Linked DNA regions of Homo sapiens: region 2 is linked to region 1. The links come from fine-mapping of genetic effects on gene expression. A gene starts in region 1. The other region holds a variant in brackets. All regions are shown on one strand. Distances are from middle to middle.

The links.
Region 2: its variant is fine-mapped to the expression of ENKD1 in putamen (GTEx, PIP 0.97).

What each region holds. Positions count from the first base shown.
Region 1 is chr16:67,662,816-67,678,282 of GRCh38, reverse strand. ENKD1 (enkurin domain containing 1) reads left to right here and starts at 11,533. Exons shown (of 7, transcript NM_032140.3): 1 at 11,533-11,925; 2 at 12,018-12,212; 3 at 13,115-13,287; 4 at 14,221-14,346; 5 at 14,463-14,626; 6 at 14,727-14,863; 7 at 14,962-15,338. The coding sequence starts at 11,841. The coding sequence ends at 15,122. C16orf86 (chromosome 16 open reading frame 86) reads right to left here and starts at 11,469. Exons shown (of 4, transcript NM_001012984.3): 1 at 11,211-11,469; 2 at 10,758-10,987; 3 at 10,185-10,405; 4 at 9,528-10,083. The coding sequence starts at 11,312. The coding sequence ends at 9,683. It overlaps GFOD2 (Gfo/Idh/MocA-like oxidoreductase domain containing 2), which reads left to right. Exons shown (of 3, transcript NM_030819.4): 3 at 2,230-3,747. The coding sequence ends at 3,128. RefSeq lists enhancers at 1-260, 261-1,217, 5,132-5,191 and silencers at 11,102-11,151, 11,232-11,281, 11,302-11,351, 11,692-11,961.
Region 2 is chr16:67,504,155-67,519,621 of GRCh38, reverse strand. ATP6V0D1-DT (ATP6V0D1 divergent transcript) reads right to left here. Exons shown (of 4, transcript NR_184227.1): 4 at 13,219-15,467. LOC100505942 (a long non-coding RNA gene) reads left to right here. Exons shown (of 2, transcript NR_104656.1): 2 at 1,237-1,916. It also overlaps a transcript of RIPOR1 not described here. Among named protein-coding and RNA genes, the nearest start is that of RIPOR1, 17 kb to the left of the region's middle. RefSeq lists enhancers at 711-770, 1,031-1,080, 1,091-1,180, 1,311-1,480, 14,785-14,894 and silencers at 4,801-4,970, 5,103-5,290. The variant G/A (reference allele first, on the strand shown) is at 6,162.

The DNA.
Region 1 (15,467 bases):
CTGGTCTCAAACTCCCAACCTCAGGTGATCCACCCACCTTGGCCTCCCAAAGTGCTGGGATTATAGGCGTGAGCCACCATGCCCAGCCAAGACATTGGCCATCTCTATGAAGTTTTCTTAGTTTTTGTTGCAAGATTTATTGTCTGTAGTTACTATTGTTTCTGCTGTAAGCTGGCCCCTCCTGAGCCTGTGTGAACAGAATCCATCTTGGTCCATCAGGGTAAGCTGCACCCTGCAGTGAGCCATCAGAAATAATCTGTGTCTTAACCATTACCTCATCTGAAAACATTCAGAAAATGTTTGGGGGCCTGAGGGAAGATGAGCACCATGGTTACTGAAGATGCACATACCTGGAGAAGGCACATTCTTGTGACCGGTTGCCCCAGGTCACAGGCATCCAGGCCTAAGGCTGCCCCTCCAACCAGGAAGTACCTGTGGAGTGCCAGAGTGGAGCCTGGATGGCTGTGGAGGAGAAGCCCAGGTGCACACATTGCCCAGATGGGCTTCAACTAGAAGGGTAAGCACATGAATTAGTCCAGCCCAAGACTTGGTATCCAGTTTTCCACATTGCATGTAGGCTCTGTGTAATGCTTTCAGTCTCGTTTCCTAACCCACCCCTGCCTTCTCAGTCCTTCAGCATTTCGTGATCATTGCCTCTCCCCAATCCCCAAGTCCTTCTGCACAGCAGCCCCCATCTCACATTCAGTGGCTAGAGCAGGATGAGCAACCGAGAGACCACAGGAGGCAAAGAGTCAAAAAGATAATTTTGGAGTGGTCAGGCATGGCAGCTCATGCCTTAATCCCAGCACTTTGGGAGGCCAAGGCGGGTGGATCACCTGAGGTCAGGAGTTGGAGACCAGCCTGGCCAACATGGTGAAACCCTGTCTCCACTAAAAATACAAAAGTTAGCCGGGCGTGGTGGTGGGCACCTGTAATCCCAGCTACTCAGGAGGCTGTAGCAGGAGAACCGCTTGAACCCAGGAGGCGGAAGTTGCAGTGATCCGAGATCATGCGACTGCACTCCAGCCTGGGCAAGAGTGAGACTCTATCTCAATATTTTTTTAAAAAGAAAATTTTGGAGGAGTGCACAGATCATGTATCAAGACCTTATGGGTGGGGCCTTTGTAAGGACTTTGGCTTTTATTCCGAGAAGCTATTGCACATTGGAGAGCTTTTTCGTGGGTTTTTGCCAGGGTGTCTTTACCCTTTCTGGCTTACTATGACTTGTAAACTTCTGTATGTGTCTAGTCCATACTGCTTTTTGGGCTTTCTAAGTTTTCTATTTAAAGTATTAGCACAGGATTTCCTTCGACTTGAACCACACAAAGCTCGCAGGAACACTGCAGGTGTTAGTGTCTCATGGCTGCTCATATCCTCACAAGCTTTCATCTTGAAACATGGAGCAGCATTCATCCCTTCAGTTCCCAGCTGCTTATCCTCTAGCACTCTCCTCAGGGCTTTGTCCAGCTTTGTTTACCTCTGGGTGCGTGTTGGCTGCAGCGTACCCAGAATGGGTGTGAGGGCAAAAAGGGTATTCTCACTTCCTTCCCTTCCTGCCGGAGCCAAACATGTTCTAGCCTTGGGCCACTCTAACTTGTTGGACCAGTGTTTTCAGAGAACAATCTGCAGGGAATCTTAGGGCCCTCTCTGGAGTTATGACTAAGAGTAGAAGTTATGAATAGTCCATCCCCTAGAAAATAGGTTAGATTTCCTTGCCCCAAGCTGATGACCTAATAAATGCATGACAACATAGAGACACGTCCATGAAGTGTGCCCACCTCTCTAGCCCACCTGTGTTATTCAGGGTTCTCCAGAGAAACAGAACCAATAGGGTGTTTAAGACAGAGATTTATTTGAAGAAATTGGGGCCAGGCATGGTGGCTCACACCTGTAATCTCAGCACTTTGGGAGGCCAAGGCAGGAGGATCACTTGGGCCCTGCCTAGGCAACAGAGGAGGACCCCATCTCTACAAAAAAAAAATTTTAAATTAGCCAGGCGTGGTGGTACACACCTGTGGTCCCACTTAGGAGGCCAAGATGGAGGATCGCTTGAGGCCAGGAGATTGAGACTAGCCTGGGCAGCATAGCAAGACCCCACCTCTACAAAAAAGAAAAAAAAATTAGTTCGTGCAGTTGTAAGGCAGAGAAGTCCAAAATCCTCAGGGCAGGCGGACATGCTGGAGATTCCCCCTTGAAACTTTGAGATTTCCTGTTGTGTCCTGTTGTTAGGTATTGGGAAGAATGTGGTTTGCGAGAAGGCAGCAACATCGGTGGATGCCTTCCGGATGGTGACAGCCTCGCGCTACTACCCGCAGCTCATGAGCCTGGTAGGGAACGTGCTGCGCTTCCTGCCTGCCTTCGTGCGCATGAAACAGCTGATTTCGGAACACTATGTGGGAGCGGTGATGATCTGTGATGCCCGCATCTACTCAGGCAGCCTGCTGAGCCCCAGCTATGGCTGGATCTGTGATGAGCTCATGGGCGGCGGGGGCTTGCACACCATGGGGACCTACATTGTGGACCTGCTGACCCACCTGACCGGCCGGAGAGCCGAGAAGGTGCACGGGCTGCTCAAGACATTCGTGAGGCAGAACGCTGCCATCCGTGGCATCCGGCACGTCACTAGCGATGACTTCTGTTTCTTCCAGATGCTCATGGGTGGGGGTGTGTGTAGCACAGTGACACTCAACTTCAACATGCCAGGCGCCTTTGTGCATGAAGTCATGGTGGTAGGCTCTGCAGGACGCCTCGTCGCCCGGGGAGCCGACCTCTATGGGCAGAAGAACTCTGCCACGCAAGAGGAGCTGCTCTTGAGGGACTCGCTGGCAGTGGGCGCAGGACTGCCTGAGCAGGGGCCCCAGGATGTCCCGCTGCTGTACCTGAAGGGCATGGTCTACATGGTGCAGGCCTTGCGCCAGTCCTTCCAGGGGCAGGGCGACCGCCGCACCTGGGACCGCACCCCTGTCTCCATGGCCGCCTCCTTCGAGGATGGGCTGTACATGCAGAGCGTGGTGGATGCCATCAAGAGGTCGAGCCGATCCGGGGAGTGGGAGGCTGTGGAGGTGCTGACGGAGGAGCCCGACACCAACCAGAACCTGTGTGAGGCACTTCAGCGGAACAACCTATGAGCCTGCACCTGGGCTCCTTGCCACAGGGCAGAGGGACCAGGGAGGGGAACAGGAGCCAGACATGACAGGGACTTGGCCCTAGCAGAGACAGTGTCTTTCATTTAATGAGTCTGGGTGAAGCCAGAGGTGGCTCTGGGACTTCGCCCCCTCCAGTGGCTCATCTGCTCCTCAGACTTGCAGGGTGGCAAATGTTCCTGTTGCCAGGTTACCACGGTGTGCACAGGGCAGAGCTGCCGCCAGGCCTCCTCATGGTGATGCCAGTGAGTCGGACCAGGAAAGGCTCACCCTGGGGAGCCCTTCAGCCTGATCCGCAGTCCTAACAGGGTGAGAAAGCACAAGAGGGGCCAGCTCGGCTGAGGCCTGAGGAGAAATGATGAGAAGTTTTGTTTCGTTCTTGGGCTGGGGCATCTCAGGAACAGTGAGGGCAACAAGCTGTCCCTCAGGGACCCTCACCTGCCCTCCCATGTGACCAGGCCCTTCCCAGGTGGGGACTGGGGCTTGCTTTATTAAGTGAGCTCTTGGGCTTTTGAAGTAGGACAGAGGGCCCTGGTTTGGCAGAGAGGAGGCAAGGGAGGGCTTTAGAACATCTGAGAAATGTTAATAAATAATTCAGAAAATAGGACATGGCATGTGGTTTTTGTTTGGTAGGTTGGGTTTCTTTAATACTGAAAGGCTTGTTTCTGGCTGGTAGGGGGTTTTTCTCTACTCATTGCTCCACAGCAGCTCGGAGCCAGCGTGGGTCATCACCGCCAACTGTGCCACACGGGCCGCTGCCCCTGCCAGCCCTCGTCTCCTGCCTGTTCCCTCATAGCCAAATCCCAGGAGCCTCAGAAGAAAAGATTTCCTCAGAGAACAGGACTCAGGACTTCCTAATGGGCTGCTGCTGGGCCTGCCGTCTCAGCAGATAGCGGGAGAGTTTGGGGCCTCACTGGGGTGGAGGTTAGGAGGGGTTCTGTTCTTAATGTCACGGTGTTGGCTGCCAGAGTGCTCTTGAGGTGGCGGGGAGGAGTGGTTTCAGGGAGGTGGCACAGGGTGAGGAGGAGGAGGAAGAGCTCCAGGCGTGCCCCATGGAGCAGCTGTGGCTGGACCCGAGGGCCAATCACCCACCATGCTCTTGACTGTGCTCTGCACAGGGCCAGCCTTCTACCCAGCTCTGCCAGAGGCGGCGGGGGGTGGGGGCGGGGGGGCACGGTGTTGAGAAAAGACATGCGTTCCCCTTTGCTTGTTTGACCAGCCTGCCAGGATCGTTCAGCCTGGACCAAGTTCTGTTCCCTTCTCTAACCTTCCGCCCTCTTCCCTGCCCTGGGCTCCTTGCCAGAAAAGCCCAGGGAGGGCTTCCTCTTCCTCTTGGCACCGCTTCTAGACGTCACCAGGCTTGTTTTCCTGTAATTTCCTGGATTCAGATGTCCTTGTGAGAGGGAATAACAAGGGATAGGGTTGGAGTGTGCCTACTGCATGCTGACCCTCAGGGCAAACGTGTATGTTATTATTTCCCTTAACCTCCAAACCACTCTCTGACGGTAAATATTCTCATCATTCAGATCATAAAATGGAGGCACAGAGGGCAAAGCTACTTGCCTCCTGTAGATTGTACATGATGGAGCCAGGAGCCTGGTCAGGACCATCTAACCACAGAGCCTGACCTTGAACCACGCTTCCTCCCAGCATTTGGGAATCTTCAGACCTGAGGGCCCGGCATTGCCCCTCCCTGTGGCAGGAGCCTCGGCCTGGCCTGAACTAGGAGGTGAAATGCAGATAGCACCCACCACCAGGCAGGACACCGAAGGTTAAAGGGGAGGCTGCCCCCTTGTCCCTGGGACAGTTAGCTCAGCTCAGTCCTCCCATGTGTTGCTAGGATGTCGAGGTCACTCTGAAATGTGGGAATTGACCAGGAAAGCACAAGCCTGACTTAGATGCTCCCACATAAGAAAGGGCCATGTGGCCAACCCAGAATGGCACTCGGGTTCCCAGAATGTGCTGGGGGGAGGGTACTGCAGTGGGCTGAATGCAGAGCTGCTTTAATGAGGACCCCGGTTCCTCTGAGGGAATCCCCAGAGCCTAGATTCACGGCCAGAGTGGTGCATGGCCCCTTCCCTCAGACGTCTTTACCATCGAGTTATCCTGGGCATCAGAGCTGGTCAGTCCCACACTGGGGATGGGGAAGACAGATGTGCCCAGATGCCTGTGGCCAAGGGAGCCCACAGGGTTCTGGTCTCCATGGGTGACTGAACCCACACTGGTTCTAGACTTGTCCGGCAGCACCCCCTCCTGGAAGAAGGCAGTAGCATCTCCCAGGACCTGTTTCCAAATCTCAGGATGTTACCAGCTCTTCCTCAGGTCAAAATAAAGTTTTTCCAGGACAGTAAAAATGCAGTTAGCTTGGCTCGTCAGATACAGCAACCAGAAGAGAACTTCCCAAATACCTGTCGCTTATTCTTCAACCTCCAGCCAAATCCAGGACTGTTTTCACCTAGACGATGGCAGCCACTTCCTTTCCTGTTCTGCCCATCACCCTGCTGGCCAAGCAGCCTCTCCTGAATGTCACGCCAAGATCCCTCCCTATCCACACCCTTCCTCCTCACCCCCGGACTTGACCAACCTGGTTTCCATATGGCCATGCCCTCCTCTCCAGCCACACTAAGAGCCCTCCTGCAGAGGTGGCAGCTTCCATACTAGCAGGGCTTTGTCCCTGGCATGTCCTCTGCCTGGAAGGCACCACCTCTCTCTCTCAGGAGTCAGCTGGAGGACTGCCCGGTCACCACTTCTGACTTCAGCAAAGTAGCCACCTCCCAACCTGTGGTTCCACAGCCTTGGTCCTCAGTTGAGCTGAGGTTGCATGTCCCTCCATCCCTCCCTCCCTCCCTCTCTCCCTCTCCTTTTCTTTTCTTTTTTCTTTTCTTGTCTTCTTTCTTTCTTTTCCTTTTTTTCTCTCTTTTTTCTCTTTCCCTCCCTCCCTCCCTCCCTTCCTTCCCTCCCTCCTTTCTTTATTTATTTCTTTTCTTGACAGAGTCTCACTCTGTCACCCAGGCCGGAGTGCAGTGTCGTCACCTTGGTTCACAGCCACCTCCACCTCCCCGGTTCAAGCAATTCTCTTGCCTCAGCCTCCCAAGTAGCTGGGACTGCAGGCGCCCACCACCACACCTGGCTAATTTTGTTTGTTTGTTTCTTTTTGAGATGGAGTTTTGCTCTCGTTGCCTAGGCTGGAATGGAGTGGCGCAATCTCAGCTCACTGCAACCTCCACCTCCCTGGTTCAAGCAATTCCCCTGCCTCAGCCTCCCAGGTAGCTGGGATTACAGGCACATGCCACCAGTGCCCAGCTAATTTTTTTGTATTTTTAGTAGAGATAGGGTTTCACCATGTTGGCCAGGCTGGCTGGTTTCGAACTCCTGACCTCGTGATCCACCCACCTCGGCCTCCCAAAGTGCTGGGATTATAGGCATGAGCCACCGCCCCCAGCCTAATTTTTGTATTTTTAGTAGAGGCGGGGTTTCACCACATAGTCCAGGCTGGTCTTGAACTTCTGGCCTAAGTGATCCGTGCCCCCCTCAGCCTCCCAAGGTGCTAGGATTACAGGCATGAACCACTGCACCTGGCCACTTGTTTTGAATATATAATTTCAACTTTTATTTTACATTCGGGGGGTACATGTGCAAGTTTGTTACATGGGTATACTGTGTGACGCTGAGGTTTGGGGGACGATTGGTCTCATCACCCAGGTAGTGAACATAGTAAATAGGTTTTTTCAACAATCACCCCACCCCCTCTCTGCCCCCTCTCATAGTCTCATGTTTGTGTTTCCCATGTTTGTGTCCATGTGTACCCAATGTGTAGCTCCCACTTGTGAGAACGTGTGCTATTTGCTTTCCTGTTCCTGTGTTAATTTCTTAGGATAATGGTCTCAGCCGTTTCCATGTTGCTGCAAAGGACGCGATTTCATTCTTTTTTTTATGGCTGCATCATTTTTACTTCTTGAGACAGGGAAAAATGTTGCCCAGGCTGGTCTTGAACTCCCGGGCTCAAGCGATCCTCCTGCTTCAGCCTCCCAAATATCTGGGACTACAGACACAGACCACCACGCCCAGCTACACGTCTCCCTAAATAATGTAGCATTTCCTCTTTACAGCGAGCTTCTAGGAGCAGTAGGGACTTGGTCCTTTCTGCAGCTCCTACTACCCACCCTGCTTAGACAAGTCCATTGGGTAATAGGCCTCAGGAATTGCAGACTAGTTCTCCCACGATTTCTAATTCCTGCCTCACCTGTGAGAAGACAGGACCAGCTCTTCCTTATCAGTGCTGGCCTCGTTCACGCTTCCAGCCCTGGAGACCGCACAAAGATACAGAGGCCTTCTTGGGTCCGGCCTTAGCCAGAGAGCCCCCAGGTCGGCAGATCCTGCACAACTCAAGACAGGGATTCCTAGATCCCAGGGTGTGGTCTCATGCAAGGCCACTTCTCTCCAGGCCTCTGCCATCCCAAACATAAAGCAAGGAGGTTAAGCTCAATTATCTTGGCTGGGTGTTTTGGCTCATGCCTGTAATCCTAGCACTTTGGGGGGTCAAGGAGGGAGGATTGCTTGAGGTCAGGAGTTTGAGACCAAGCTGAGCAACACAGACCCTATCTCCACAAAAAAAATTTTTGGCCGGGCACGGTGGCTCACATTTGTAATCCTTGAGTCCGGGAGGCAGAGGTTGCAGTGAGCCAAGATTGTGCCACTGCACTCCAGCCTGGGCAACAGAGCGAGATGCTGTCTCAAAGAAAAAAAAAAGTCCTGACCCCCATGGCTTGTCATGGGGCCAGTGAGCACCCAAGTGACCCTGTCAAAGGAGGGAGCAGGCTGGGATGATGCCAGAAAGGGGACCCTGCTTTTCCCACCTGAACCTGCCCACCCTACTCCCTCCAGTGACCTTGCCAGGCCATATTCCAGGGAACCTACATATTAGACTGTGGCCTCGGGATGGCCTCAGCATTTCAGATTCTGGCCTGTCCCTCTCTGCAGCTTCCTCCACCCCTCACTTCAGTCTCATCACCTTGGTGCCTTTTAAGGGGCCCTCTGGCTAGGTCGATGTGATGCAATGAGATGTGCCCTTAGGGAGCTCACGGTCTAATCCCGATGACAGTTATAACCCACATGATAGCAATGCGCAGGGGCTGCAATGCAGGGCAACATGGGGTGCTGTCTGGCTCCCCAGGAAGCAGAATCCCAAGTTTTCAAAGGTGTGCGTGCACTAGCCAGGGGGAGAGGTGGGAATAAAGGCATTTTAGGCAGAGAAAGCCCCACATGCACAGAGTGAAGGGAGGAAAAGGTGTAACTGCTCAGGGAATTACCGGAAGCCACTGAATTCTAAGGTAGCTGGGGCAAGAGGAGGGGAATCCCAAGGGGGAGTGACACCATCAGGGGCTCAGGTGTGTGTGTCACAGGGCCACTGGATGGATCCGTGGGCCAAGGGATGACAGGCAGGGTGACCAGTGAGGCTGTCACCTGGAGATGACAGTGGTCCAGGCGACGGTGCTGACTGTGGGGTCCGAGAGGTTCTCAGCCTGAAAGGGTAGGATCACTGGCCTCAATGTCTGCTTAGCTTGTAGGAATCAGGGAGCAAAGAACAGGATGGGGTCTGGGGTGACACCCAAGATTCTAGCTTAAACAATTGTGCAGATGAGATACAGGAGGAAAAGCCAGTTGGAGGAAGGGGAAATTTCCATGAACTTAAAATTCCCTGTGTCTGTTTGTGGTGTCCAAGGAACACACAGGAGGCCCAGGATGTGCAGTTTCCAAAATGGCCAACACTGGCTGGCTCTTCCCAGAGATCCTTGCCGGTTGGACACAGCTGTCATCCAGTGGCTTGGCCTCAGGGTCCCAGATGCACTTACTGCCCCTGTCCACCCCTGCCTGCCAGGAAAACATCACTGATGCCCTGTCACCTGTGACCAGAGGCTACTCCACAGACAAGGTCCGGTCCAGCTATGGTCTGGCAATGAGTAGGAAACATCCCAAAGCTGTCACTGTTGTGACAGGCAAAAGAACTCTGTGCTACCTCCTAGGAGGATCCCAAGTTTTGATCCCCTCAAGGTGAGACCAAATGCAGGCCCTTCCCCAGGAGACAGAAGAGCAGGGCCAAACACCTGCTTCCCATGACCCAACAGACCCTTTCTTTTCTCTGCCCCAAGTTCCTCCTTCTCACTTCCCTCTTCATCACCCAGTTAGCTGCCTGACCCTCAGATTCACCTAAACACACAGCACCAGGTCCACCCTGATTCAGTGAGGCATGGGGTGGCACAAAGGAATCTGTCATTGTCAAAGTCTCAGGTGATGCAGATGACCATTCAGGCCTCAAACCCTGCACTGTTGAGTCCTCCATCCTCTTACCCATTTCAGGCAACCTATCTGGGGAATCACAAAGTCTTTGAAAAAGAAAAATATTTATTTTCAGCAAGACCAAAGTCCCAAGTGGGGGCAGGTGCCAAATTTGCCCCCGCCACCAGAGGGCCTAGGCCCACAGGAAGCCTGAAGCCAAATTCAGGCGTGGAAGGAGGGGAGCCACCAGTGGGGCGGGACAGTCACTTGTACTGAGGAGAGAGCGGGGGGACAAGTGGAGCAGTGCAGACACTCAGCATCTTGTCGATGTCCACCTGGGTTGACTTATCCACCTCGGCCTTGTGGTCACTCACCCCCAAGCTGGGCAAGCCCCCAGGCTCCTCTCCAGCCTCCTCTCCGAGGGGAGCCAGGGCATGGGTGGGGGTCACTAGTGGACTGGGACAGGGCAAAGCGAGGCCTGGGCCCAGCTCACCTGCCAAGGGCAGCAAGGCCTGCAGTTGCTCCACACCTCCCTCCTCGGGAACCGGGGCCAGCTCTGCCTCTGCCTCCACCTCAGCCTCCCCGTCCCCCTTCCCTGCCTGGTTCAGCTCAGGGTTGCAATAGTTGACGTACTGGTACAGCGGCCGCAGGCGCTGGGCCTTTCCTGCAAAGACCCAGGGCAGGGCAGAGGCTAGAGCGCCAGGTTGTGCCATGTCGGGCCCCACAGGCAGGGGGAGAAGGAACAGTCCAGGGACTGCCACTCACGCTCCAGCCTCAATGTCTCTAAGGGTGCAGACACCATGCTGGCCACAGCGTGGAGCACGGGAGCCCCCAGGCTCTTGCGCTTCTTGGCTTTTTTGTGCTGTTTGGCAGATGGTGAGGGCTCACTCTGGCTGTCCTCTGGCTCCTCCTCCTGCAGCGGCAGCTTGGGTGGCAGCTCAGCTTCAGCCTTAAGATGGGCACGAAGGCCCGGGAGGCTGAGAGACCTGAGCCAGGGACAAGAGACTTGAGCCAGGCTCCAGCCCTGGCTCCCATTCCCTGGCCCAGGGAATAGCCCAGCCTGCCCACAGCCCCAGGGCTCGACGCCTGTCCCGTTCCTGGTCAATGAGACCCCAGGCCCAAGAGGCTTAGAGGCCAGTGAGCCCAGGCCCCTACAAGCCCTGAAGCTCCCACTCTCCTGCTGCTCCCTACACGGGGGCTCTTGAGGAACGGGAGGAGAGTGATGGTAGTGGCTGGGGACGAGAATCCTCCCTGCAGGAGTGCAGGATTTAGGAATCCTACTGTGGTGTGTGCCCCAACCCCGGGGCTGCAGCTCCTTCCCCCCGAGAGCCCCCTCACTTGACAGGCTTTCTCTTTGGACCATGACGGGGCCTCACAATGGAGACCACGGGCCTGGGGCCTCTCTCCTCTAGCGCCCCGGCATGCGGCTTGGGCCGCTCCTCCCCCAGCTTGGGTCCTTCCTCCTGGAGCTCCGACTCCGAAGCTGCGCCTGCTGGGCGCTGGTCTTCACTCTGGGTTCCGCGGGCCTCATGGGCAGGCACCAGGAACTGGTCTCCCGCCACTGGACACTAGAGATGACACACAGGCCATCGGTCACCATGGCCGGGCAAAGGACATAGGGATCCGTCACTGAACACCTAACGTTAGACACCGAAACGGGAATAAGGACACCAGCCTGTGCCCCTCCCCGCCTGGAGGGCCCAGCCTGGCAGTTAGCGGGTCGGGGCGCTCAGTTCCACCTCTCAGAGCGCTGCGGCCCTGTGTTTGAAGGTTAAACAGCCTGACGGTCACCTCGGAGGTCTGAGCGCTGCCGGGCTCCTCCGTGAGCTGTCCCTGCCCCACGACCGTCGCCTCCTGGACCCCCGGCCGCCTCTCCGCCCCTGCCGAGGCCATGGCTGCGCAGGCTGAGTGCGTCCTCGACAGCTGCTTGGGGCGGGCCCCAAGGGGCTGGATGGTGGCCCCGCGCTGACCCCGGAGACCGGCCAGCAAGCGAGGGCAGAGCTGGGAAGAGAAACCGGCGACCGCGGAGCCCACCCTCGGCCGAAACTACAAGCCCCAGGACGCTTTGCGCCGGGGTCAGTGGGCCCTGACCCCGGGGACGGAAGCCACGGTTGCCCGGCAACAACAAGTCCCGTCGGGTGGCAGCGGCTGGCGGCAAAACCTCTCGAGTGAGCCCCTGCCCGAGTGCCGCGGGGGAGAGGCCGCGAGCGGGACCGAGAAGTGGGCTGGGAGCAGAGGTCGCGGAGGTGGCGAGCGAGGCCGGGGCCCAGGCGGGGACCGGCAGGGGCCCGGGAGTGGCGGGCACGCCAGGGTCAGGGTGCCGGGCGAGGGAGGGGGCCCGGGGTTGGGGAAGGGGGCCCGGGGAGGGAGGTAAACAGCCCTGCAGGCCTCGGGGCACCGTTGCTGGGCGGCGCCGGCGGCATGTGCGAGGGCCCGTCCCGCATCTCGGGGCCCATCCCCCCAGACCCGACGCTCTGTCCTGACAACTACAGGCGGCCGACCTCGGGTGAGTCCGGGGGCTTGGCGGTGGTGCGAGGCTCAGGGGTCGGCCCTGGCTCCACCTCTGAGCCCCGGACTCCGCCCGGCTCCGCCCCACAGCTCAAGGGCGCCTCGAGGGAAACGCGCTGAAGCTGGACTTGCTGACTTCCGACCGGGCCCTGGACACCACCGCTCCCCGTGGCCCCTGCATCGGTCCCGGTGCCGGAGAGATCCTGGAGCGCGGCCAGCGCGGCGTCGGGGACGTGCTGTTGCAACTCGAGGGGATCTCCCTAGGTCCTGGGGCCTCTCTCAAGAGTAAGTCCCAGGAATGGAAGAAGGGACAGAGAGGCAGTGCGGGGTGGAAAGAGATCAAAAGCAGCTGCTCTTTCCACCCTGACGTGGGCCCAGGCTTTGCATCTCTTGAGTCTCAGTTTCCCCAACTATAAAAGGGGGAGAAATATGCTACCTTCTCGAAGGAGGTGAACTGAATGAGGTAGTTCCCACGAAGCCCTAGCTCTGCTTTATGCATTTGTTACCCATTAAATTTGTTTGTTGAGTGCCTACTGTGTGCCAGGCCATATAGATGCTAGAACACAGGGCTGAAGATAAGCATGAGCCATCACTGAGTCAAGGTGGGATACAAAGATCAAGAGATGAATGTCATATATGAGATGATCTATGGTGTACTTCAATGGTGTACTTCACTATAATAATGGAGGAAATCACCTGGGCGCAGTGGCTCACTCCTGGAATCCCAGCACTTTGGGAGGCCCAGGCGGGCAGATCACTTGAGTCCAGGAGTTGAAGACCAGCCTGGCCAACATGGTGAAACCCCATCTCTACAAAAAATACAAAAATCAGGCTGGCATGGTGGAGTGTGTCTGTAATCCCAGCTACTCGGCAGGCTGAGGTAGCCGGGGAGGTTGAGGCTACAGTGAGCTATGATCATGCCACTGTACTCCAGCCTGGGTGACAGAGTGAGACCCTGTCTCAAATAATAATAATAATAATAATAATGGAGAAAATCATCCTGTGATACTTACTACATGAGGAAGGGAACACGGTGATGAGGGAGAGTGTGTGTAGGGTCTAAGGTAGTTGGAGAGGTCAGGGAGCTCTTTCTGTAGGAGGCAGGGGGCAGGCCTGTGTGTGAACTAGTGGAAGTTGGACTGTGTGGGCCCCATGTAGGGCAGAACCTGGGGGCATCTTTTCTCCAGGGAAGGACCCTAAGGACCATGAGAAGGAGAACCTGAGGCGGATCAGGGAGATTCAGAAGCGCTTCAGAGAACAGGAGCGCAGCCGGGAGCAGGGCCAGCCCAGGCCCCTGAAAGCTCTGTGGCGCTCACCCAAGTACGACAAGGTGGAGTCCCGGGTCAAGGCCCAGCTCCAGGTACCTGCTTCAGGGAGCCAGAAGTATTATCCATTTTGTTGGCCAACAGGCAACTGTACCCTGATCTGAGTTCTGGGGTGGGAGGGAAGTCACAGAGGTAACAGAGGACTAAGAGACCCTGGCTCTGCTGCAGGGCGAGGCTGGGGGGCTTCTCAGAAGTAGTGATGGTGGGGCTGATCCTGAGGGCAAGTAGCAATTAGTCAAAGGGACAGCAGAAGAGAACATTCCCAAAAGATGGAACCTCACAGACCACAGGGCACGCAGCAGTGGAGATGCTAGGTACAGTTCACTGTGAGGAAAGAAGGGCGTGAAGTTAGGCCAAGAAGTCAGCTGGACCCACGTCAGGGGCCACAAAAGCCACTTTTCAGCCCTTATTTCTGAGGACAGTGGGAAGGGCAGGGGTATGGTGGGGGGCTCTGTCTCAGGGACTCAGTAGGAGGAGCAGGAGTGAGAGGAAAGGCAAGGTCACACAAATGTGTTGTAGCTGAAGCATCTGTGGGGTTCCCAGGGGGTGGGAGTGTGTCCAGGAAGCAGATGGAAATTCAGGCCTGGATCTCAGGAGTGAGACCTAGGAGTTATTGACGATCAGGTTGAGGACAACGAGACCAAGGAATTGACCGCCTGGATTTGAGGACTTGGAGGCCAGCTGTTAGGAGCCTTGCAGGGCTAGAGCCAGGAAGCTTGGCTAGGAAGGAGGAAAGAGAGTGGTAGCTGGGCCAGTACTGAGGTGGAAGGAGAGATGGTTTGTTGTTTTCTTAAAAATCTGACATACTCACACATTTGTGTGCTGATGAGGACAAGTGTCCCTTGAAGAGGGAAGAGGGCCCGAGGGACATGGATGCAAAGGTCAGAAGGGCCAAGATGGCCAGGGTCTTGCAGCTTGAGCCCCAGACCTCAGCCTGCCTGCTCTCTCTGCTGTGCCCTGCCCTCCAGGAGCCTGGCCCTGCCTCTGGGACAGAGTCTGCCCACTTCCTGCGGGCGCACTCCCGCTGCGGCCCTGGCCTCCCACCACCCCATGTATCTAGTCCCCAGCCAACCCCACCAGGTCCCGAAGCTAAGGTGAGAGGATGTATGGGGGCTAGATGGTGGTTGGGCAGGGCTCCTGGTGTGGGGGGGGTGTTCAGGGACACAACATAATGCTGTCTGCCCCCACCCACGCTTGCTGTGTCCTGCAGGAGCCAGGCCTGGGGGTGGACTTCATTCGTCACAATGCACGAGCTGCCAAGAGAGCCCCCCGGAGGCATTCCTGCTCACTGCAGGTCCTGGCACAAGTGCTAGAGCAGCAGCGGCAGGCCCAGGAGCACTACAATGCCACGCAGAAGGGCCATGTGCCACATTAGTAGGTCTCACTGCCCGACACTCAGGGTGAAGGACACCTGTGGAGGGTGGGAACCAACCTCTGCCCTCGGGTCATCAACTCTGAGCCTGTGTACCCACAGCTTGTTGGAGCGCAGGGACCTGTGGCGGCGGGAGGCCGAGGCCCGCAAGCAGAGCCAGCCGGACCCTGCCATGCCCCCAGGCCACACGCGCATGCCTGAGAACCAGCGGCTGGAAACACTGACCAAGCTGCTCCAGAGTGAGTACCTGGGCAGGGAGGCTGGAGGGGGGCCCCACTGGGGACCGGGCACCCCTGCCCAACACTCACTGTTCTCACTGTTCCCGGGCCCCCTGTAGGCCAGAGCCAGCTGCTGCGTGAGCTGGTACTGCTGCCTGCTGGGGCAGACTCACTGAGAGCCCAGAGCCACCGTGCTGAGCTGGACCGGAAGCTGGTGCAGGTAGAGGAGGCCATCAAGATCTTTTCTCGGCCCAAAGTCTTCGTGAAGATGGACGACTGAGCCCCTTTGGGGGACAGTGGCAAGGAGCTCCATGCTGAGGATCGCCACATGGCTGCAAAGGACAGGGTTGGACCCAATCCCAGAGCAGAGGTCTGAAGACAGGAGCAGGGGGGTGGCCAGTGTCCCTAGAGCACTCTTCCCAGTCACCAGTGGCTGCAGAAGGGCCACCCTAGCCTTTTAACTGCTTTGTCAAAATTAAACATTTTGTACACAGGATTTGTTTCCATAAGAGCTTTTCTTACCCTAAAAATGCCAAGCCTGGTGGCCCTCCTGCTGCTTGATTGCAGGAAGTTCTCCCCAATGTCACTCCTGCCTTAGTCCAGAGCAGAAGGCAAGCTGGTGAGA
Region 2 (15,467 bases), 160 kb after region 1:
CATGTAATCTTTCCCCAGACCTCTTCCCTGACACCCTCCAGCCACCAAGTGAGTCCCCTCTTCCCTATGCCCACTTTCCTGCCCTTGGCTAGACTATCACTTGCCAAGGATACACATCACTCGGTGTCCTTGTTCATTGTCCACGCAGCAGCTGGATGACCTCTGCCCGTGGGACCTGTCTCTCCTCACTTCCCCACTGGCCCCTCACCCCTGGCCAGTTCCTCCTTAGGAGGGCGTAGTTCCAGCTGGACTGAACTTCTTTGTGTCCCTGGATACACCCTGCCTTCCCTACCTCTCCATCTTTGCACAGGGTGGGCCCTGAAGTGTTTTTTTTTTTTTTTTGAAACAGAGTCTTTCTCTGTTGCCCAGGCTGGAGTGCAGTGGCACAATCTCCACTCACTGCAACCTCCGCCTCCCAGGTTCAAGCAATTCTCATGCCTCAGACTCCCAAGTAGCTGGCACTACAAATGTGCATCAGCACGCGTAGTAGTGCATTTTTAGTAGAGGCCGGGTTTCATCGTGTTGTCCAGGCTGGTCTCAAACTCCTGACCTCAGGTGATCCACCCACCTCAGCCTCCCAAATTACTGGGATTACAGGCATGAGCCACTGCGCCTGGCCTGGGCCGTACAGTTGAATGCCTTTTCCTCTTTCCTTCGCCTAACTGCTGCTCACCCTTGAGGTCTCAGCCGAGACCCACTTCCTTTGAGACAGTTTCCTGGACCGCAGGCTGGGTCCGGAACCTCTCCTTCTCTCTTACAAAGCCCTGTGCAGCCCCCTTCTCTGCCCTTGTCTGCCTCCCCTTCCAAGAGCGCCACCTGCTCTGCTCAGGGTTCCACACCCCAAGACCGGGTGCAGGTTGAGTCACCTGACTCTGTCACCCTGCCCAATTCCCAGACTCAGAGGTCCCAGATCTCAGAGGTCACTGAGTTCCAGAGGGAGCAAGGCCATGCTTGAGGGTCGCCACAGTGAGCCAGTGGCCAGGCTGGGCTGGGACCCAGGACTCTTACCTTCCCCTCCAGGGCTCCCGCGCTCCCCCAGATGCCATCATGAGCAGAGTTGGGATCCTTGAGGGCCCAAGGGTCCTCAACCAGAAGGGACTTGGTGGGCTCCTGTCCTGGGGGGATGGCAGCCACCAGCCCAGGCTCTTGAGAGCCCAGGATGCTGGTGAGGGCTGTCCCAGGAAGCCAAGAGAGCCAATGTCAGCACATCTAATGAACTGCCTCCTTCTTCAACAGGGCTGGGCCGTGGGAGTGCTGGCCAACGTGCCAGGCAGGGAGGACCTGAATTCCTGAAGGTGGTGGTGGCAGCTGTTAGGGTCCACAGGTTAATGATCTCCAACGTCACACAGAAGAGAATGTGCTGAGGTGTGACCTCCCTCACCCTGCCTTGGCTGCGTGGGGCACCGTCTCTCCAGGACTCACCCTGCCCCCCAATAGACTGAAGTCTGAAGATCAGCCCAGTCTTCCTTCAGGCCTCAATGCCCTCTCACTTCCCCAGCCCGAGGGACTCCTGGCTCTTCTCGGAGGCTGCTCTGTGGGGTCCCTCCCTTGGGCCTTTGCTAATGCTGTGCCCTCTGCCTGTGCCAGAGGTGGGCCTGGGCCCGTTTCTCAGGGAGCTCCTGAACACCAAGAAATTGAATTGCTTTGTAAATAAACAAAAAGTGCCAAACAAGCCTGCCTGTCACTTGGGAGATGGCCCGTCTCTGCCCCACCAAATTTGCTAATCAAACAAATAACCTAAAATAGAATAGAAAGAACTCATCTAGACTTTTCTTGTACCTCTGCTCCCCAAACAGCTTCTCTTTTCAGGTCTCCGGAGCAGCCCTGTTCTCTCTAGCCCAGGCCTCTGTCAAAAATTCAGCCTGACCTTAATTAATTAATTATTATTATTTTTAATTAAAAAATTTTTAAATATATACAGACGGGTGGGTGTGGTGGCTCATGCCTGTAATCCCAGCACTTTGGAAGGCTGAGGCTGGCGGATCACCTGAGATCAGGAGTTTGAGACCAGCCTGGCCAACACGGCGAAACCCCATCAACTCTACTAAAAATACAAAAATTAGTTGGGCATGGTGATGCATGCCTATAACCCCAGCTACTAGGGAGGTTGAGGCAGGAGAGTCGCTTGAACCCAGGAACCCAAGCAATATATATACACAAACGAGGTTTCACCATGTTGCCCAGGCTGATCTTGAACTCCTGAGCTTAAGCAATCCACCCGCCTTGGCCTCCCAAAGTGTTGAGATTACAGCCATGAGCCACTGTGCCCGGCCTTATTATTTGAGTAAAGGTCTCACTCTTTCACCCAGGCTGGAGTGCAGTGTCATGATCATGGCTCACTGCAACTTTTAACTCCTGGGTTCACGTGATCTTGCCTCAGCTTCCTGAGTAGCTAGGACTATAAGTGTGTGCCAGCATGCCCAGCTAATTTCTTTTTTTAAATTTTTTTGTAAAGACAAGGTCTCACTATTTTGCCCAGGCTAGTCTTGAACTACTGCGCTCAAGCAATCCTCCCGCCTCAACCTCCCAGAGTGTTGGGATTACAGATATAAGCCACCGTGCCCAGCCTCAGCTTGAACTTTATATCTGAACGATCCTCCCGTAGGTGTTGGAGAAGCCTTCCAGGACCCCCATCCCAAACCTTCCTCCTTCTCACTTAACACAAGTGCAATGACTTGCTCAATGGCTGTGAGCTCTGTGGGGCCAGGGATGGTGGTGCCTCATTCACCAATCCATGTGCACTGCCTTCCATAGGAACTGGATGGATGCTCAATGACTCTCTGTTGGATTATGAATGGCAGGGGGCCTTGGGCACTGGGATATTGTCTTCCTCTCTGGAGCTGCCCAGTTTTTTGTTTTTTGGTTGTTTTTTTTTTTTTTTTTGCTGAGTAGGTGCATCTCAGTCTTCTATTAATAAATTGCCCGGAGGCACAGACTCTCTCAGGCAAGCCGTCTGGTTCCTTGCTATTTCGCTAGTCTTTCTCACTGTTGTTTTTCTCCCTGAGTTTCCACCGGAGCAAGCGGCTTGACAGTTTCACACTAAAACTAAACACTTTCCCCAAGATTCATCCTTCCTTAGTTCCTGGAATCTGCTTTTCATCTTTCTTGGCTTAGAAAGCCAGTGACTCATTTACTGATCCAGGATTCACTTCTCCACTGGAATTTCTTGCAGGAAATCTGAGAGTGGCAGGTGACATCATTTTTCACTCCGCCTGCCCCCTCTTGTCTCTGAATTTACTTATCTAAAACTCCAGATTTGTTGAATTGTAAGAGGCAATGGAGTTGTTAGTTTTTCCTTTAATTTAGGTAGCCCTCATTACACCACGGCCCTGTACTCCTAGGGGCTCACCCCAGGGCCTTTGTAGAGCTTCCAAGGCCCCCAACCTCCAAACCTTACAAAATCACCTGTGTTTCCTTGCTAAGTTTCCACATAATGACAACAACTGGCTCTCACTGGAAATCTAGAAAGCCATAGGTTTATTTCTAATGTACTTTCAAAATGCCAACCCTTCTCACCCTTTCTAGCTACCCAGAAATCACACATACACACAAGTACAATTCCTAATTTGTAATAATCTAAAAGCTCAAATGAAAATTATAGAGTCCATAGCCTGAACATAGTCAGTGTTTATGCTGTGACTGAAATGACCTAGGGGTTTGGTCTAGGTCCTGCTGCTCGCCACACAGAAAGCCAATCACTGAAACGAGTATTGCCAGGAAAGAAGGCTTTATTCATGTATTGCAGCTGAGATGAGAGATCAGTCTCAAATCCGTCTCTTTGACTGAACGAAATTAGGGGTTTAGGCCAGGTGTGGTGGCTCATGCCTGTAATCCCAGCACTTTGGGAGGCGGAGGGGGGGCAGATCACGAGCTCAGGAGTTTGAGACCAGCCTGGCCAACATGGCAAAACCCCGTCTGTACTAAAAATACAAAAATCAACCAGGCGTGATGGTGTGTGCTGATAATCCCAGCTACTCAGGAGGCTGATGCAGGAGAATCACTGAACCCAGGAGGCAGAGGTTGCAGTGAGCCAAGATCGTGCCACTGCACTCCAGCCTCAGTGACAGAGCCAGACTTTGTATCAAAAAAAAAAAAAAAAAAAAAAAAAAAAAAAAAGGCCGGGCGCAGTGGCTCACGCCTGTAATCCCAGCACTTTGGGAGGCCGAGGTGGGCAGATCCCCTGAGGTCAGGGGTTCGAGACCAGCCTGGCCAGCATGATGAAACCCCATCTCTACTAAAAATACAAAAAATTAGCCAGACATGGTGGCAGGTGCCTGTAATCCCAGCTACTCAGGAGGCTGAGGTGGGAGAATTGCCTGAACCTGGGAAGCAGAGGTTGCAGTGAGCCAAGATCATGCCACTGCACTGTAGCCTGGGCAACAAGAGCGAAACTCTGTCTCAAAAAAAAAAAAAAGATTTTAAGGGTTTATATAGCAGGCTAGAAATGTGATCTTGTATGGGAAAACAGGAATTAGGGAAGGGCAAGGAAGAGGAGTTGGTCAATAGGAAGCAGGTGGCTGGTTAGGCAGTTATTTATTTATTTATTTAGAGACACATTCTTACTCTGTCACCCAGGCTGCAGTGCAGTGGCGCGATCTTGGCTCACTGAAACCTCTGCCTCCTGGGTTCAAGTGATTCTTGTGCCTCAGCCTCTCAAGTAGCTGGGATTACAGGCATGCCACCATGCCTGGCTAATTTTTGTACTTTTAGGAGAGATGGGGTTTTGCCATGTTGGCCAGGCTGGTCTCAAACTCCTGACCTCAGGTGATCCGCCTGCCTCAGTCTCCCAAAGTGCTAGGATTACAGGTGTGAGCCACTGCACCCAGCATGATTAGGCAGTTATGATGGGTATGGGGTCTGGTAACATATTGTCCAGATGCAGTGATCTGTAAAGTTTCAGTTCCTTGATACTACCTGGGAGGCCTGATGGTTGGTTTCCTGAGAAAGGAACTAATCAATAGATCGGAGCAAGAACAGAGCTGTAGGGCTATAACCCCCGTGAACTGAGAAGACCAAGTGAGAAGTTCCCAGGAAGTCCCAAAAGGAGAGCAAGCGTAAACATGCACCCACAAGGGGGCGTGCATTTACTGTCTTTCAATTAAAAACAATTTTTTTTTTGAGTCAGCGTCTTGGTCTGGTGTGCAATGGTGCAATCACAGTTCACTGTAACCTCCAACTCCTGAGCTCAAGCGATCCTCCCGCCTCAGCCTTCCAAGTAGCTAGGACCACAGGCTCGTGCCACCATACCTGGCTAATTTTATTTTTTAATTTTAATGATTTTTTTTTTTGAGACAGGGTCTTGCTCTGTCACTCAGGCTGCAGTGCAGTGACATGATCATGGCTCACTGCAGCCTCAACCTCTTGGACTCAAGCAATCCTCCCATCTTAGCCTCCAAAGTAGCTGGGATCACAGGCATGTACCACCACACCTGGCTAATTTTTGTATTTTTTTGTAAGACATGGTCTCGCTATGTTGCCTAGGCTCATCTCCCATTCTGAGGCTCAAGAGCTCCACCTGCTTCAGCCCCTGCAAAGTGCTGGGATTACAGGTGTGAGCCACAGTGCCCAGCCCATTTGAGTATATTATTTGGATAAATATTTATTTTACACAGTTTTTTTTTGTAGAAATGGGGTCTTGCTATATTGCCCAGGCTGGTCTCAAACTCCTGGGCTCAAGCAATCCTCCCACCTCAGCCTCCCAAGTAGCTAGGACTACAGGTGTGTACTACCACACTTGGCTCTTTACCCACTTTTGCACTGAGTTGTTTGATTTGCAAATATTTTTTCCCATCCTGTGGATTGTCTTGTCTTTTCACTCTCTTTTTTTTTTTTTTGAGCCGGAGTCTTGCTCTGTCACCCAGGCTGGAGTGCAGTGGCACAATCTCGGCTCACTGCAAGCTCCGCCTCTTGGGTTCAAATGAGGCTACTCCTCCTGAGTAGCTGAGATTACAAGCGTGTGCCACAATACCCAGCTAATTTTTGTATTTTTAGTAGAGACAGTATTTCACCATGTTGGTCGGGCTGGTCTTGAACTCCTGACCTCATGATCTCCCCGCCTCAGCCTACCTAAGTGCTGGGATTACAGGCTTGAGACACCGCGCTACCATACTCAGCCTTTTTTTTTTTTTTTTGAGATGGAGTCTCGCTCTGTCGCCAGGCTG[G/A]ACTGCAGTAGGGCGATCTTGGCTCACTGCAACCTCCACCTCCTGGGTTCAGGTGATTCTCCCGTCTCAGCCTCCCAAGTAGCTGGGACTAAAGGCGTGCTCCAACACACCCGGATAATTTTTGTATTTTTAGTAGAGATGGGGTTTCACCATGTTGGCCAGGATGGTCTCAATCGCTTGACCTCGTGATCCGCCCACCTGGGCCTCCCAAAGTGCTGGGATTACAGGCGTGAGCCACCACGCCTGGCCGAGTCTTTTCTTTTTAAATTATTTTTAAACTTCTTTTTTTGTTTGTTTTTTTGAGACAGCATCTCACTCTGTTGCCCAGGCTGAAGTGCAGTGGCATGACCATAGCTCCTTGCAGCCTTGAACTCCTGGGCTCAAGGGATCCTCCCACCTCAGCCTCCCGAGTAGCTGGGCCAACAGGTGCATGTCACCACTCCTGGTTAATTTTTTTTTTTTTTTTTTTTTTTGAGACGGAGTTTCACTCTATCGCCCAGGCTGGAGTGCAGTGGCGTGATCTTGGCTCACTGCAAGCTCTGCCTCCCGGGTTCACGCCATTCTCCTGCCTCAGCCTCCCAAGTAGCTGGGACTACAGGCGCCCGCCACCACGCCCGGCTAATTTTTTGTATTTTTAGTAGAGACGGGGTTTCATCGTGTTAGCCAGGATGGTCTCGATCTCCTGACCTTGTGATCCGCCCGCCTCAGCCTCCTAAAGTGCTGGGATTACAGGCGTGAGCCACCGCGCCTGGCCCACTCCTGGTTAATTTTTAAATATTCTGTAGAGATGGGATCTTCCTATGTTTCCCAGGCTGGGCAACATAACAACATAATAACATAACATAAAATAATTTTAAAGGTGATAGGCCGGGTGTGGGGACTCATGCCTGTAATCCCAGCATTTAGGGATGCTGAGGTGGAAGGATTGCTTGAGCCCCGGAGTTCGAGACTAGCCTGGGCAACATAGAGAGCCTCAGCCTCACCTGATCTCCCTTCCTTCTCCTCCCTGGGGTTCACGGCTGGCCACCAGCCTGTCCTGTCATTCCTGTCATCTGCCTGACTCCCTCCTGCACAGAGGTTCAACAGCAGGCCAGCTTCAGGTTCCTGCACCTCTGGCAAAACATCTTGCCTCTTTTTACTTGTCAAAATGATGACAGAATGACTTCAAAGATACATTCACAAAAGCCACCTTCCTATCCCATCACTGAGGCTTCACCAGAGAGCTTACTACCCCAGGGCTGCGTACACCGTCGCCCTCACAGCAGGGTTCTAACTTTGCCTCCCCCATCGCCTGAGAGTGAGATGGAGAGCTCTGGGCAGGTGGACCCCCTCCAGATTAGTTCAGAAAGTCTGCATAACTACAATTGTTTTTTAAAAAAAAACCTTGCAATGTGGGTATAAATTTTTGCCCCAGGACCAGGCACAGTTACTCATGCCTGTAGTCCCAGCACTTTGGGAGGCCAAGGCAGGTGGATCGCTGGAGGCCAGGAGTTCAAGACCAGCCTGGCCAACATGGCAAAAACCTGTCTCTGCTAAAAATACAAAAATCACGGCCTGGCGTGGTGGCTCATGCTTGTAATCCTAGCACTTTGGGAGGCCGAGGCTGGCAAATTGCCTAAGCTCAGGAGTTTGAGACCAGCCTGGGCAACACGGTGAAACCCTGTCTCTGCTAAAAAAAAATACAAAAAATTAGCTGGGAGTGGTGGCGTGCACCTGTAGTCCCAGCTACTCAGGAGGCTGAGGCAGGAGGATTGCTTGAACCCAGGAGGTGGAGGTTGCAGTGAGCCGAGATCACACCAGCCTGGGCAACAGAGCAAGACTCCCTCTCCAAAAAAATTAATACTAATAACACAAAAATCAGCCAGGCATGGTGGCATGTGCCTATAATCCCAGCTACTTGGGTGGCTGAGGAATGAGAATTGCTTGAACCCGGGAGGCAGAGGCTGCAGTGAGCCGAGATTGCACCATTGCACTCCAGTCTGGGTGACAGAGCGAGACCCTGGTCTCAAAAACAAACAAAACAAACAAACAAACAAACAAACACATCAGGCGCAGTTGCTCACACCTGTAATTCCAGCACTTTGGGAGGCCAAGGCAGGTGGATCATTTGAGGTCAGGAGTTCGAGACCAGCCTGGCCAACATGGTGAAACCCTGACTCTACTAAAAATACAAAAAAAATTAGCCAGAAGTGGCCAGGCGCGGTGGCTCACGCCTGTAATCCCAGCACTTTGGGAGGCCAAGGCGGGCAGATCATGAGGTCAGGAGATCGAGACCATCCTGGCTAACATGATGAAACCCTGTCTCTACTAAAAATACAAAAAAAAAAAAAAAAAAAAACCCGGGAGGCTGAGGCAGGAGAATGGCGTGAACCAGGGAGGCAGAGCTTGCAGTGAGCCGAGATTGCACCACTGCACTCCAGCCTGGGTGACAGAGCGAGACTCTGTCTCAAAAAAAAAAAAAAAAAAAAAAAAATTAGCCGGGTGTAGTGGCAGGTGCCTGTAGTCCCAGCTACTTGGGAGGCTGAGGCAGGAGAATGGGGTGAATCCAGGAGGTGGAACTTGCAGTGAGCCGTGATCGTGCCACTGCACTCCAGCCTGGGTGACAGAGCAAGACTCTGTCTCAAAAAAAAAATTAGCTGGGAGTGGTGGCGTGTGCCTGGAGTCCTAGGTACTTGGGAGGCTGAGGCAGGAGAATCGCTTGAACCTGAGAGGAGGAGGTTGCAGTGAGCCAAGATCACTCCACTGCACTCTCCCATGCCTGGAAGACAGAGCAAGACTCCATCTCAAAAAAAAAAAAATTTCTCTTCCAAATACCACCTTTGTGCAAGAAACATCAATCTGAATCTGAATTCCCTTCTGCCAAGTAATTACAGTCATGCAGCACTTAACAATGGTAATATGTTCTGAGAAGTAAGTCCTATTTTATCATTGTGTGAACATCACAGACTGTACTTACACAACCCCAGATGGTATAGCCTACTACACGCCTAGGCTACAAACCTGCACAGCATGTTACTGTGCTGAATACTGTAGGCAGTTGTACCACAACAGCTAATATCTGTTCATGTAAACATATCTAAACATAGAGAAGGTTCAGTAAAAATACAGTATTATGATCTTATGCGACCACTGTCATATATGCAGTCCACTGTTGACCAAATCGTCGTTATGCTGTGCATGACCCCGTTGGGGTCCCCTCCCCTCCTCTGGCTGAGAAATGACCCAGGTCTTGCTTGGAGCAGAGCTTTGGCTTTGTGTCCCTTTTGGCCCACCACTGAGGGTCTGTCACTGCCCACACTCACAAGGCCCTAGAAGGGGCAGCTGAGATAGGACTCAAGGACATTAGTCAAGACTGGTGCCTAATTCTTTTTCTTATTTATTTATTTATTTATTTTTATTTTTATTTTTATTTTTTTGAGACAGAGTCTCACTCTGTCGCCCAGGCTGGAGTGCAGTGGTGCCATCTAGGCTCACTGCAAGCTCCGCCTCCCGGGTTTACTTACACCATTCTCCTACCTCAGCCTCCTGAGTAGCTGGGACTACAGGCGCCCCCCAACACGCCTGGCTAATTTTTTGTATTTTTAGTAGAGACAAGGTTTCACCGTGTCAGCCAGGATGGTCTCAATCTCCTGACCTCGTGATCTGCCCGCCTCAGCCTCCCAAAGTGCTGGGATTACAGGCGAGCCACCGTGCCCGGCCTTTATTTATTTTTTTGAGATGGAGTCTCGCTCTGTTGCCAGGCTGGAGTGCAGAGGCACGATCTCAGCTCACTGCAACCTCCACCTCCTGGGTTCAAGCAATTCTCCTGCCTCAGCCTCCCTAGTAGTGGGGACTACAGGCACGCACAACAACACCCAGCTAAGTTTTGTATTTTTAGTAGAGATGGGGTTTCACCATGTTGGCCAGGATTGTCTCGATCTCCTGACCTCATGATCTGCTCGCCTCAGCCTCCCAAAGTGCTGGGATTACAGAAGTGAGCCACCACGCCGAGCTGACTGGTGCCTAATTCTTAGGGTTCAGCCTCACTGGGTGCACTCTGTACTTGCTCCCCACTGAGGTCTTGCCACTGTTCTGGACTTGGTGAGGGAGGGGGCACCGTTCCCACTGCATTGAGCCATGCCAACCACTGTCTACTCCCACTCCTTGTTGTGCCAGTGACATCCCACCAAGAGGAGTTCAAGTGTCTGTTTTTCCTCTGCTATCATACTTCTTGATCTTTGCCAATAGTCTAGGGTAGAGGGGTTGGCTCATGGCCAAATCTAGCCCACTGCTAGTGTTTGTGCAGCTTGTGAGCTAAGAATGTTGGTTTTGTTTTTAATTTTTTTTGAGACAGGATCTCACTCTGTCACCCAGGCTAGAGTGTAGTAGTGCGATCATGGCTCACTGCAGACTCAGTCGCCTGGGTTCAGGTAATCCTTCCACCTCAGCCTCCCGAGTAGCTGGGACTACAGGTGTGAGCCACCATGCCAGGCTAATTTTTAAATTTTTCTGTAGAGACAAGGGTCTCAGGCTGGTCTCTCAAGCAACCCTCTTGCCTTGGCCTCCCAAAGTGCTGGGATTACAGGTGTGAGCCACCGTGCCCAGCCAAGAATTTTTTTTTTTTGAGATGGAGTCTTGCTCTGTCACCAGGCTGGAATGCAGTGGCGTGATCTTGGCTCACTGCAGCCTCCCCCTCCCAGGTTCAAGCAATTCTCCTGCCTCAGCCTCCTGAGTAGCCAGGATTACAGGCGCCTGCCACCACACCCGGCTAATTTTTGTATTTTTAATAGAGACGGGGTTTCACCTTGTTGGCCAGGCTGGTCTCGAACTCCTGACCTCTTAATCCGCCCGACTCAGCCTCCTAAACTGCTGGGATTACAGGCACAAGCCACCACACCTGGCATTAGAGATCCTGTCTTACAAAAAAAAAAAAAAGTACTGGGGGCGGTGGCTCATGCCTATAATCCCAGCATTTTGGGATGCCAAGGTGGGTGGATCACTTGAGGTCAGGAGTTCGAGACCAGCCTGGCCAACATGGTGAAACCCTGTCTCTACTAAAAATACAAAAATTAGCCGGGCATGGTGGTGGGTGCCTGTAATTCCAGCTACTTAGGAGACTGAGGCAGGAGAACTGCTTGAATCTGGGAGATGGAGTGTCTTGCAGTGAGCCGAGATTGCACCACTGCACTCCAGCCTGGGCAACAGAAGGAGACTCCATCTCAAAAAAAAAAAGGTCTGAAGTAGATAGTGGCAATGGGTATACAACATTATGAATGTACTTAATGCTACTGACATACGCTTAAAAATGGTTAAATGGTAAGTTTTGTTTTTTAAAATCACAATTTAAAAAAATTACTTTAAAGAAAGAAGTGGCTGAACCCTAGATCCCTTCCTCAACTCAACCCGGATGGTGCTGCCCTTCTCCCACACCAGCAGATGATAGATAATAGAGTGTCTCTAGACTGGGGAGCACCAGGCAGTTAGGAGTCAGATTATCATCCGAAAAGCAGAATGATTACAGAGAAGTTTATATACTGAATATGTAGGCACTGCTCTTCTTCTCTAGGAAGGATCTAGAATGCCAGCAGCCAGAGTATACCTGCAGGCAGGAGATTGGCAGACACCTCAAGAGAAAATAATAAACACATTGACATTGACATTGAGCAGAGTGGAGAAGGAGGTTCTAAAGGAAATGACCACTCACTATGACACTGAAACTGTGCACAAGCCCCACTCAATGCCTACTACTGCCAATCAGTTTTCTAGGGCCTGACTCTTCTATATAAGGAGAAAACCAATAATCAGCAGATATTAGAGAAATAAAGGTAACACGGTAAGCAGAGATGAAAACAACAATAACAAATCAGAGGAAATGTACATTCTGCATTAATATTCTCAGAGATATTAGAGAAGACATTACATCCATAAAGCAAGAACAGCATGCCTCAGGAATAAAAGGGGGAAAAAAATTCCAGAGAGCAATGTTAAAGCCTTGAAAAACGAAACATATGATAGCAGAAGTGAGAAACTCAATATAAGGGTTGGAAATAGAGTTGAAGAAATCTCCAGGAAGTAGAGCAAAATGACAGTAATGGAAAGTGTAAAGTGAAAGGGACCGGGTGCCGTGCTCACGCCTGTAATCCCAGCACTTTGGGAGGCCAAGGTGGGAGGATTACTTGAGGTCAGGAGTTCGAGACCAGCCTGGCCAACATGGTGAAACCCCGTCTCTACTAAAAATACAAAAATTAGTTAGATGTGGTGGTGCACATCTGTAATCCCAGCTACTCAGGAGGCTGAGGTGGGAGAATCACTTGAACGCGGGAGGTGGAGGTCGCAGTGAGCCCAGATCGCGCCACTGCACTCCAGCCTGGGTGACAGAGCGAGACTCCATCTCAAAAGAAAAAAAAAAAGAGACAGAGAGAGAGAATTTCCCATAATTGAGGTACTATGTGTGTTTCCAGATTGAAACGGCCTGTCCCAGGGTGGCTAGCTGTCACAGAGCAAAGGGTCTCAAACCTTTTGGTCTCATGACGTCTTTTCACTCTTCAGTATTTTTGAGGATTCTAAAGAATTTTGTTCATGTTGGTTATATCTATTATGAAAGGAAAATAAAATCTTGGGACCCCAAACTCATTATGTCAAAGGGAAAGTTAAGCTTGGGAACCACAAAAACTGCCTTCCTTTCCCAAACGGACAGCTGTAATTTCACAGGCTTAGTTATGTAAAATGTAGATCTACTAAGCCCGAGACAATGCATAGTTGACTCCCCCGACCCCTTTTCACATATAAAATGTAGAGTCACTGAGCTGCTAATCACAGCCTCACAACAATGTCACCACTTGCCGCCCTGCCTACCCTCCTGCCCGCTTTTTTCCCCTTTCCTCCCTCCCCTCCTGCTGCCTCTTTCCTCTTTGGAAAAAGCACAGGACACAGATCGTACTGTGACTTGTGTCTCTTTTTCCCCGGGCGTGTCCTCAACCTTGGCAAGATAAACCTCTAAATTGATTGAGATGCCTCAGTCACTTTTTGGTTCACACCATTAATATTTACCATGTGAGAAATTAAAACAGAGAAAATGTTTACATGTTTATTAATTTATTTAAAATGATATCATGAAACCATTACATGTTAACACAACTTTTTTTTTTTTTGAGAAGGTGAAGGTGTCTTGCTCTGTTGCCCAGGCTGGAGTGCAGTGGTGCGATCTTGGCTCACTGCAACCTGCCCCTCCCAGGTGCAAGCAATTCTTCTGCTTCAGCCTCTCAAGTAGCTGGGATTATAGGCGCATGCCACCAAGCCCAGTTATTTTTTTTTTTTTTTTTTGAGACGGAGTCTTGCTGTCGCCCAGGCTGGAGTGCAGTGGCGCGATCTCTGCTCACTGCAGGCTCTGCCCGCTGGGTTCACGCCATTCTCCTGCCTCAGCCTCCTGAGCAGCTGGGACTACAGGCGCCCGCCACCTCGCCCAGCTAATTTTTTGTATTTTTAGTAGAGATGGGGTTTCACCATGTTAGCCAGGATGGTCTCGATCTCCTGACCTCATGATCCGCCCGCCTTGGCCTCCCAAAGTGCTGGGATTACAGGCGTGAGCCACCGCGCTCAGCCAGCCCAGCTAATTTTTATATTGTTAGTAGAGATGGGGTTTCATTATGTTGGTCAGGCTGGTCTCGAACTCCTGATCTCAAGTGATCCTCCCACCTCAGTCTCCCAGCGTTGAGATTACAGGCATGAGCCACTGTGCCCAGCCAACACAACATACTTTTAATGAAAAATAACTACATTTTTCCAAACCAAAAAGAAAGTGAAAACAGTGGTATTGTTTTGTATTTTTTGCAAATCTCTTCAATGTCTGGTTTAATATTCTGGTTTAATTCCCATATCTGCTTCTATACTCAACCTGTTTCAACATCACATGTCACAAACAGCCAGGCGCAGTGGCTCACACCTATAATCCCAGCACTTTGGGAGGTGAAGGCGGGAGGATCACTTGAGGCCAGGAGTTGGAAGACCAGTCTGGGCAACATAGCAAGACCCCTCTGTCAGTATAAAAAACAAAATAAAAAAACACATGTCATGTAGCCTCTGGAAAATCCCACTGTACACTCATGAAAGACAAATAATATCTTTTTTTTTTTTTTTGAGACAGTGTCTTGCTCCATCACCCAGGCTGGAGTGCAGTGGTGAGATTTCAGCTCACTGCAATCTCTGCCTCCCGGATTCAAGCAATTCTCCTGCCTCAGCCTCCTCCTGAGTAGCTGGGATTACAGGCATGCATCACCACACCCAGGTAATTTTTGTATTTTTAGTAGAGACTGGGTTTCACCATGTTGGCCAGGCTGGTCTGAAACTCCTGACCTCATTATCCATTTGCCTTGGCCTCCCAAAGTGCTGAGATTATAGGCGTGAGCCACCGTGCCCAGCTGACAAATAACATCTTAATATTACCGTGAACCTAGTGTAGACTTTATGGATACTTCAAAAGGACCGCACTTTGGAAACCACAGAGTTAAACAATATCAAGTCTCATTGGCTTCATGCAATAAAAATGTACTCCAATGAAGACTGGCCAGCTTCCCATGGAGAGCTGGCTTTTTCCATCATGCTGTAAATTATACCATCTGGAATGCGTGGTTTCCAAGTTTACTGAGAGAGAGAAGGGGGCTGGTGAATCAGGTGGGATGCTTTTAAGGGTAGGGCCTGAGCCAGGCACACTGGCTCATGCCTATATGACATCAGCTATTAGGGAGGCTGAGGTGGGAGGATTGTTTGAGCACAGGAGGTTGAGGCTGCAGTGAGTCATGATCACAGCACTGCACTCCAGCCTGGGTGACAGAACAAGACTCAGACCTTTAAATAAAAAAAAGACTAGGGCCTAGAGGTGGGGCATGTCACTGGAAATGTCATCTTCCTGTGTGTCCAGGAAGAGAATTGGGTGTGGTGAACACTTAGCATCTGCTCCACCCCTGGGGTGATCGTGGCGCTCACATGATCCTGTGACCGGAAGCCTCCACAGGGTCACTTCATGAACATTTCTCATGTTTCTGCAGCATTTTCAAACAGTTGCCCTGTTAGTGACAGCAGTTATAACAGGTGACTTTGACTTCGAGCATTTGTCCCATTCAAATTAATTTTTCTATTTTAATTATAAAAGTAATACATGTTCACACACACAAAGCATCATTTCAATGATCAGAAGGACAAAAGAGAAAGATAAACATTACACCCCATGGAACCTCCTTGAACTGTGTCACCACCCGCGAGAAGCATAGTGAATTCTCTCAAAAAGTTTCTTTGCATCTCTAAGCTTACATCTACATCTATTTTTTGGAA